Regions from separate parts of the Homo sapiens genome. Here all the other regions are linked to region 1. The links come from fine-mapping of genetic effects on gene expression. A gene starts in region 1. Each other region holds a variant in brackets. All regions are shown on one strand. Distances are between the middles of the regions.

Region 1 (2,808 bases):
CCGGATCTGGGAGGGCGCCCGCGTGCCCGCCGTTTACCTTCCTGACCCTAGCCTTGGGGCTGTGTCTCTCGGCCTACGAAGGCCTGGGCGGGCAGCGGGGCCGCAGCCGAAGCATTTTTCAGGGCTAGCCTTGTCGCCTATCCCTAGACAAGTGTTTTGTGAGTGTGGGCGCACCGAGGTTCTACACGTTCTCTTTACCGGAACCAGTACTTGCTGCCCCCCTGCCGTCGTCCCCTATGGGGGGGTGTCTGTGAGTGTGTGTGTATACACGCGTGTGTGTATACGCCGCACGCGCGCGGAGCGAGTCCGCTCTCAGCGCGCCCTGTTGCCGAGGACGCGACTGCCCCTGCGGGCTCCCGGACCCGCGCCCACTCGGAGGAACTTAGGGGCGTGCATGGCTGCAGCCGGGCAGCAGCCCTAGGTGCACAGAGCCTCTAGCTCTGCAAACCTCCCAGGAGCCGGCGCTCTAACACCCCAGGGCAGCGCCGCGGAGCGCAGGGCTTCTCCGCATCCCGGGCAGCCTCGCCCGGCGCCAGCAGAGCCGCCCCGAGACCCCAGCCTGGGGACTCCTGGAGCGCGCTGAGGGAGGCGGCGCGGAGTGAGCGGCCCGGAAGGCGGGTAGGAGAAATGCGGAGACCTCGTCTCTCCCTATTTTCTCCCCACCGCCACTCCATGTCACCCTCCAAAATCAAACCCCCTTCCCTGCCTCCCCAGCCCACCCCTTTGCCCTGTTTCGGAACCAGGAACGCCGAGATTCGCTCCAGAGCAGAAAGTGAGGGAAAAGAGGGTTGTTCAGAGGCGAGAGCCATTAAAAGGCCGCCAAACTTACCTGCAGTTTCTCAGATTCTCAGGTCCTGTGTAGACTACATGCCCAGAGGCGCAAACCTCGTAGGGACGAGATGGCTTTAAAAGTAAAAATGCTCAGAAATTATTTTCTCACAAGCTATGGAAGACAAAAAAGAGGAGTGCGAAAGAGGGGGGAAAGCTCTTCGGTTCAGGGGCCCGGCGATCCCGGCAGTGGCGACGCCAAGCCGGCCCTGCACGCCCTTTTCGACCGTGGAGATACTGCCCCTGTCAGTGTCTGCTCCGGGCTACTTCAGTGTTTGTTCAATGCACGATTAAAAAAAAAAAAAAGAAAGAAAGAAAAGTTGTTGGGGGGGGGGGTAGTGGAGGAGGGAGGAGGGAGAAAGGCGGAGGCTTGGGGGAGGAAAGCAGGAAGGAAGTTGTGAGCCTGTCTGGGGTTGAACTCAGCGGAACAAGTTTTTCTTTTCTTCTTTTTTTTTTTTTTCTATTGCTTGGCAAGACGAGGGAGGGAAACACTTAAAAAAAAGTTTCCATTGTTAGCTAACAACAACAAAAAAGGCTTTTAACTTCTGCGGTTTAAAGATATACAATTCATTTTCCACCCCTCAATCGAGGCTTGCTGATGTGTCTAGCTTTATGAAACTATTTTTGAAAAATGTTTTTAATAAAGTTTTGAGTGTATGTCTTAAACAAAGCAAATCATGGGGACCTTTTTAGCATTTAAAAAAGGCTACAATCCTGTATAAACAGTTTGTGTTCTTGTACACAGTTCTGCAAATTCAAAGAAGGTACATTGAGGTCACCTTCCTGCAGAGTTGCAGGTTTTAAGTGCATCACAGTAGTATTTTGGAAGACTGGTTGGTCTATGAGCTGGGGATGGTTTTGCAGTGCAATTGGTAGATATATAAATACACCTTTACATGTCACATTTATTTATAAATGCACACGGCACATGTGACATTCGCATATTTTTGCACTTAATTCTCAGAATTATTTTAAGAAAAAGCATAGTCCTGAAACTAAGAAGGCTTGGGTAACGTCTGAAACCCCTCTTGCTCCTGTAGACCCTTGTAGACTGTCTCCTGTAGACTGGATCATTTTCAAGAAACTTTCTCCCCTACTATCAGCAAAAAAGGGAGAAAGAACATCAGCCAACATTACTGGGCAGGGGATCCTACCCCTTCTAAGCCCTGGCACTGCCAGTGTGTTTTACATAATTCTCTAAATCTTAAACTACAGCATTTAGTGAAAGGAGGGAAAACACAGCTGCACGGCTCAGGAGACTGAAACATCCAAAGCCTGAATTGGTCCTTATATCATGATTAGCTGAAATTCAGATGGAAATTTTGACTTTACTTGTAGCACACAGATCTCTTGCTTGTTTATGTAACAATACTGTTAAGTGAGCAAAGCAACCTGCTGCTCCATCAGGAAGAGGCTCATGCTAAATCTGAAATCAAGAGATCTTCTAGCCAAGAATACCTGAGAATCACACACTGTTGAAAACTTTATAATTTTTAAAAATTAGAAATGGAAGAATTGAACCTAATTACCCTCCTACCCTCAATGGGGCTTTTTTAAAAAAAAGCCCAATCCCAGAACTTTGGGAGGCCAAGGCAGGCAGATCACAAGGTCAGGAGTTCGAGACCAGCCTAACCAACATGGTGAAACCCTGTCTTTACTAAAAATACAAAAATTAGTAGGTCGTGGTGGTGCGCTCCTGTAATCCCAGCTACTTGGGTGGCTGCTGAGGCAGGAGAATCGCTTGAACCCAGGAGGTGGAGGTTGCAATGAGCCAAGATCTCACCACTGCACTCCAGCCTGAGCGACAGAGTGAGACTCCATCTAAAAAAAAAAAAAAAAAAAAAAAAAAAGAGCCCAGAGTTATTCAGGTCTCTGAGCAGTTATTCAGGATCTGAGCAGTTCCTAAGAAAGAGAAGCCAGCCCTCTCCTTGACCCTAATTTGGTTCCCTAGGGGCAAAAAAGAGGAGTTGCCAGTTTTCA
Region 2 (2,675 bases), 950 kb before region 1:
GATCTGCCCGCCTTGGCCTCCCAAAGTGTTGGGATTATAGGCGTGAGCCACTGTGCCTGGACTTTTTTTTTTTTTTTTTTTTAAAGAAGGAGTCTGGCTCTATTACCCAGACTGGAGTGCAATGGTTCATTCTTGGCTCACTGCAACCTCTGCCTTCCGGGTTCAAGCAATTCTCCTGCCTCGGCCTCCCAAGTAGGTGGGATTACAGGTGGGCACCACCACACCCAGCTAATTTTTGTATTTTTAGTAGAGATGAGATTTCACCATGTCGCCCAGGCGGCTGGAGTTGAACTCCTGACCTCAAGCGATCCACCCACCTCGGCCTCCCAAAGTGCTGGGATTACAGGTGTGATCCACCACGCCCAGCCCCAGAGTGATTTCTGAAAGGCTAATTTGATTGTTACTCCCTTGCTTAGAAACCTTTAAACTCCACCCTTGCATCCTCTCTAATCTCTGTCATTTCTGTATTATGTAAGAGCTCCTTTAATGTGCTGTGATGTGTTAGGCCTCAGTGCTTTCAAACATTCTGTTTCCTCCTTTGCAATATTGAATCCCACCTCCACCCCTAATGTGGCCAGACTGCTGCTTATCTTTCAAAACCCAACTTGAGGATTACTTCATTTCTTGCTTTTCATTTTGGCTTTTTGTGCTGTATCACAATTCTTTTATCACATTTGTCTTTTTAATAGACTGCCCTTCAAGACAATAGAGATAGATCAGTAATATTCTTACATGTCTTATTTCCATTGCCTACTATGATGTCTTGACCCAGAGAGCACTCAGTAAACATTTTTTAAATAGTTAGTTCTTTTGAAAATTTTATAGAGTGATTTTAAAAATCACTTTTTGTCTTTGGTCATATATTGTATTTGTGTTCAGGGTTCCATTATGATGAGACTGCATGAAGTTAGACCTTTTAGTGATTACCATGTCTTCTAAGAACCAATTGAATGTAGTGAGTAGCTAAACATGTGGAAAAGGAAGAGTGAATCGAGATGTAGTATACTAGACATAGATTGAAGAGATGTGAATCCTAGCTTAGTCATTTACTAGCATTTTGGCCTTGGAAAAGTTTAGGCCAAAAATTTAGCCTTCTGGTCTCAATTTCCTCATCTGTAAAGTA[T/C]CATAGTGATAGTAAAAAAATATATGAAAGTATCTAACATGAGTGCTTACCCTTGGTAGATTGAGTACATGTATTCTTTTGTTTGTTGATTGGTTGGTTGATTGCTTTTTTTTTTTTTTAGAGACAGTGTCTTGCTCTATTGCTCAGGCTGCAGTGCAGTGGCATGATCATAGCTCACTGCATCCTCGACCTCCTGGGCTCAAGCGGTCCTCTTGCTTCAGCCTCCTGAATAGCAGAGACTACAGGTGTGCACCACCACACTCAGCTAATTTTTAAATTTTTTTGTCAAGACAGGGTCTCATTATATTGCCCAGGTTGATCTGGAACTCCTGGACTCAAGCCATCTTTCTGCCTTAGCCTCCCAAACCACTGGGATTATGGGTGTGAACCACTAAGTACTTCTTAAATCTTGACATTCCACACAGAAAAATTTTAATTGTGATTGTCACAGAGTGGTTAGGTATACTTGCTGAAGAAAAACCCCTATGTCCTGTCTTAAAAATAGGGGAATAGGCCGGGCGCGGTGGCTCGTGCTGGTAATCCCAGCATTTTGGGAGGCTGAGGTGGGCGGATCATGAGGTCAGGAGTTCGAGACCAGCCTGACCAACACAGTGAAACCCCGTCTCTACTAAAAATACAAATATTAGCATGGTGGTGGGTGCCTGTAATCTCAGCTACTTGGGAGGCTGAGGCAGGAGAATCGCTTGAACCTGGGACTGGGAGGCAGAGGTTGCAATGAGCCAAGATTGTGCCACTGCACTCTAGCCTGGGTGACAGAACTAGACTCGGTCTCAAAAAAAATAAAATAAGGGAATAAATGCAGAACGAATTTTAATACAAAAGGCCTTATCTCCAATTGATGGCTCTTTTTGCCCTGTTAATGATTGAATATAATTAAGGATCCATGTTAACTTCGACTTTTTTATAATCCCATGTATCCATCATTTTTCTAATCCCATAATTGATTTAGAATACTGTCTTCTATGGACCTAAAATCTTTTTCTGTCAGAAATTTCAGTGAGAAGGTATGTACATTCTCTCATAGGACATGTGCTAAAATTTTGATGATGAAGATTAATATGGCCTTTTTACAAGATTGCCGCACAAATTTGTACAATGCGTGGATAAAAATTTTTTTAAGTGAGTTGTTTAAAAGGCTCACTTAAAAAAATCAGTTGGGCATGATGAGGTTGAACTTCAAGTTATTTAAGTTGTTGACTTTTATTATAGGATCATTAGTTCCTGTTGTTTAAAACTCATGTGAACCTTTAAGATGGGCTGAAGAAAAGTGGATCTGTACTACAAAATGAGGAAAGGGCTGCCAGCTTAAAGTTGCTGTTTTTGAAGATTCTACAACAGATGGCTTTATGACCAACCATAAGCAGATCTTAAGTATCTAGTGAAGAATTTAACTGCTAACAAGGAAGAATTTGGTTTGATTTAAAAGTAATATCTTCAAGCCTGGGCAACATGGAGAAACCCCGTCTCTACTAAAAATAGAAAAATTAGCTAGGTGTGGTTGTGTGTGCCTGTAGTCCCAGCTACTCAGGAA
Region 3 (2,808 bases), 32 kb after region 1:
CAGTATTCCCCATGAAACAAAGATCAAGATTATCGTGTAGGGCAATTAATGCTGTGTTTAAACGTCTCCTTTTGAGAATAATGCTTTAGTGTTTGTGAAAGTGTCTTTCAACTTTTAATGACTTTTATTTGTTGTTTATTTGGTGTTAATCTTCTCTTTTAGTTTTCTGTTATCAAATGTCTTTATCACGTAGAGATTATTTTTATGTTATTGAAATAATCTATAAGTACCATACATTTTCTCATAACAACAATTATGATTATTATTTTAAATAGAAACAGAAAACTTTTGAAACATTTATGATAACCCTGACACAGGAACATGATTCACTGTTTCTTTTTTTTTTTTTTTTTTTGAGACGGAGTTTTACTCTCATTTCCCAGGCTGGAGTGCAGTTGCGCGATCTCTGCTCACTGCAGCTTCCACCTCCCAGGTTCAAGCGATTCTTCCCGCCTGTCTCCCAAGTAGCTGGGATTACAGACGTGCGCAGCCACCCCACCCGGCTAATTTTTTTGTATTTTTACAAGAGACAGGGTTTCACCATGTTGGCTAGGCTGGTCTCAAATTCCTAACCTCAGGTGATCTGCCCACCTTGGCCTCCCAAAGTGCTGGGATTATAGGCGTGAGCCACCAAGCCCAACCTCATTATTTCTTATTATGGTCACTCTGTTATCATTTAAAAACATGTAAATCGGTGGGGTTTTTTTTGTTTTGTTTTGTTTTGAGACAGGATCTTGCACTGTCGCCCAGGCTGAAGAAATCATAGTGATGAAATCATAGCTCACTGCAGCCTGGATCTCCTGGGCTCAAGTGATCCTCCCACCTCAGCCTCCTGAGTAGCTGGGACTACGGGTTCACATCACTACACTTGGCTAATTTTTTGACTTTTAGTAGAGACAAAGTCTCACTATGTTGCCCAGGCTGGTCTTGAACTCCCCCACCTCAGCCTCCCAAAGTGCTGGGATTACAGGCATGAGCCACTGCACCCAGCATAATAGTATTATAAAAATACAGAACAATTTATAAGTTTTGAGACATCCCAAAAAATCCTGGGAACTATGATTTGTTCCTGAATCCCAAAGATTAATATAGAACTTTTTTGACTGGTGAGCATGTTCTTCAAACTCTAGCTCACATGTCCTATCTTCTTTAAAAAAACTTTCTGTATTAGCCAAGGCTGATG[G/T]TTGCAAATGCCAAAAATCTAATACAGTGGGCAAAGGGGTACTTTATTGATTCATGTAACTGGGAGTGGTTGTAGCTTCAGGCACAAGAGGACCCAGAGGTTCAGAGTGTCATGGCCTCTCTCTCTCTCTCTCTCTCTCTCTCTCCAGTTTCTCCTCTGACTTAGATTTAGTTTTCCTCCACCTAAAGCTAAAGTTAGTCACACTGGGAGCTCCAGATGTGTGTTATCCTTAAGTCTCATGATCCCAGACAAAGAGAGAGTGAACGCTTCTCTAATAGGTTTGGTGAAAGTCCCCAGGAGCTTTTGGATTGCCCCAGCATGTGCCCCATGCACATCCCTGAGCCCGTGACTGTCAGCAGGAAGACAGAATACCCTCATGGCCAACCTTGGACCACCTGCCCTCCTCTGGGATCAGTCCTACCTGACTCCATGGAATAGATCCCCCATAAGAAAGATGGATTCTATGTGAAGAAGGCAGGGCTGTGATGCTGGGTACTGGGAAGTGACAGATGTCCCCCTCACCCTCCATTGTTTTCTCCTTCCCCGAAGAATCAGTACCTCCCTCACTTGCATGCCCATGGCTTTGGATTCTTCCTGTGTTGTATTTCTTCTCACAGCACACTCTTGTAGGCACATCCATCTCACAGATCCATCCATCCGTGAGTTCCTCCAGGAACTGGTCTTGCTCCTGTGGCACTCCAGCACCTAGCATGTACCTGGCATGTAGTAGGTACTCCATAGCTAATATTTATTGGAATTTATTACCTGTCATGCACTATTCAAAGTTGTATATGAACTAGTTTACTCTTCACAGTAATACGATGAGGTAGATATTATTGTCCTTCATTAAATATTTATTGACTAAGTTAATGAAAGTAAGCCATGATTTAAAGAAGCTACCCACTGAACCCCATGATAGAATTCAAGGGCTGTCTACCATAGTTGAAAAGACTTCTCTCTGTCAAAGGGAACTATTGTCTTGTGACTACTTCCCTGAAGGTAGCATGTCTGACCACATAACAAGGGTGGGATGACCTCCACCAAAGAGGCTGGGCCAATGCTAATGATGCAGGCCGGAGGCAGAGGGCACCAGCCACCAGGCACTCCTTGCCACCCCCATAGCAGGGACATCATAAAATGTCTGGGTTTCCCCGGAGGCCAGCAAACAAAGGAACAACTGCCTTTTGGAGTAAGTAATCCTGATACTGCATGTAGTCCAAGGCACACAGAAGGAATCCCTCTGGCAGATAAACCGTAGAGTTGCACAGCAAGAGGGACCTTACAAATGATCTAAGACTGTGCTTTTGTTTTCAGGATGAGGAAACAGAAGCCTGTAAAGGTGAAAGGAATTGTCCAAGGTCCCGTGGTTAGTACAGAAACTAGAAACTGGAAGTAGAACCCAGATCGCTTTCTGAGTCCCCTGAGACTTTGCATATGCTGAATGATTATAAATGATTATAAATAAGTCTTTGTTTGTTTGTTTTTTGAGACGGAGTCTCCTGCAGCAGCACTCTGTAACCTATCTCGGCTCACTGCAACCTCCACCTCCCAGGCTCAAGCGATTCTCCTGCCTCAGCTTCCCGAGTAGCTGGGATTACAGGCATGTGCCACCATGCCCAGCTAAT

Evidence for each region. PIP is the estimated chance that this variant, and not a neighbour inherited with it, causes the effect. A credible set is the group of variants that fine-mapping cannot tell apart.
Region 2: its variant is the best candidate, but not a certain one, in a credible set for the expression of ITPKB in sun-exposed skin (GTEx, PIP 0.83).
Region 3: its variant is the best candidate, but not a certain one, in a credible set for the expression of ITPKB in monocytes (TOPMed, PIP 0.60).

Annotation. Positions count from the first base shown.
Region 1 is chr1:226,738,212-226,741,019 of GRCh38, forward strand. It overlaps ITPKB (inositol-trisphosphate 3-kinase B), which reads right to left and starts at 1,071. Exons shown (of 8, transcript NM_002221.4): 1 at 830-1,071. RefSeq lists enhancers at 1-204, 828-1,077 and a silencer at 368-607.
Region 2 is chr1:225,785,618-225,788,292 of GRCh38, forward strand. All of the region lies in intron 2 of SRP9 (signal recognition particle 9), which reads left to right. Among named protein-coding and RNA genes, the nearest start is that of SRP9, 9.1 kb to the left of the region's middle. The variant T/C (reference allele first, on the strand shown) is at 1,124.
Region 3 is chr1:226,770,417-226,773,224 of GRCh38, forward strand. No RefSeq gene overlaps it. Among named protein-coding and RNA genes, the nearest start is that of ITPKB, 33 kb to the left of the region's middle. The variant G/T (reference allele first, on the strand shown) is at 1,184.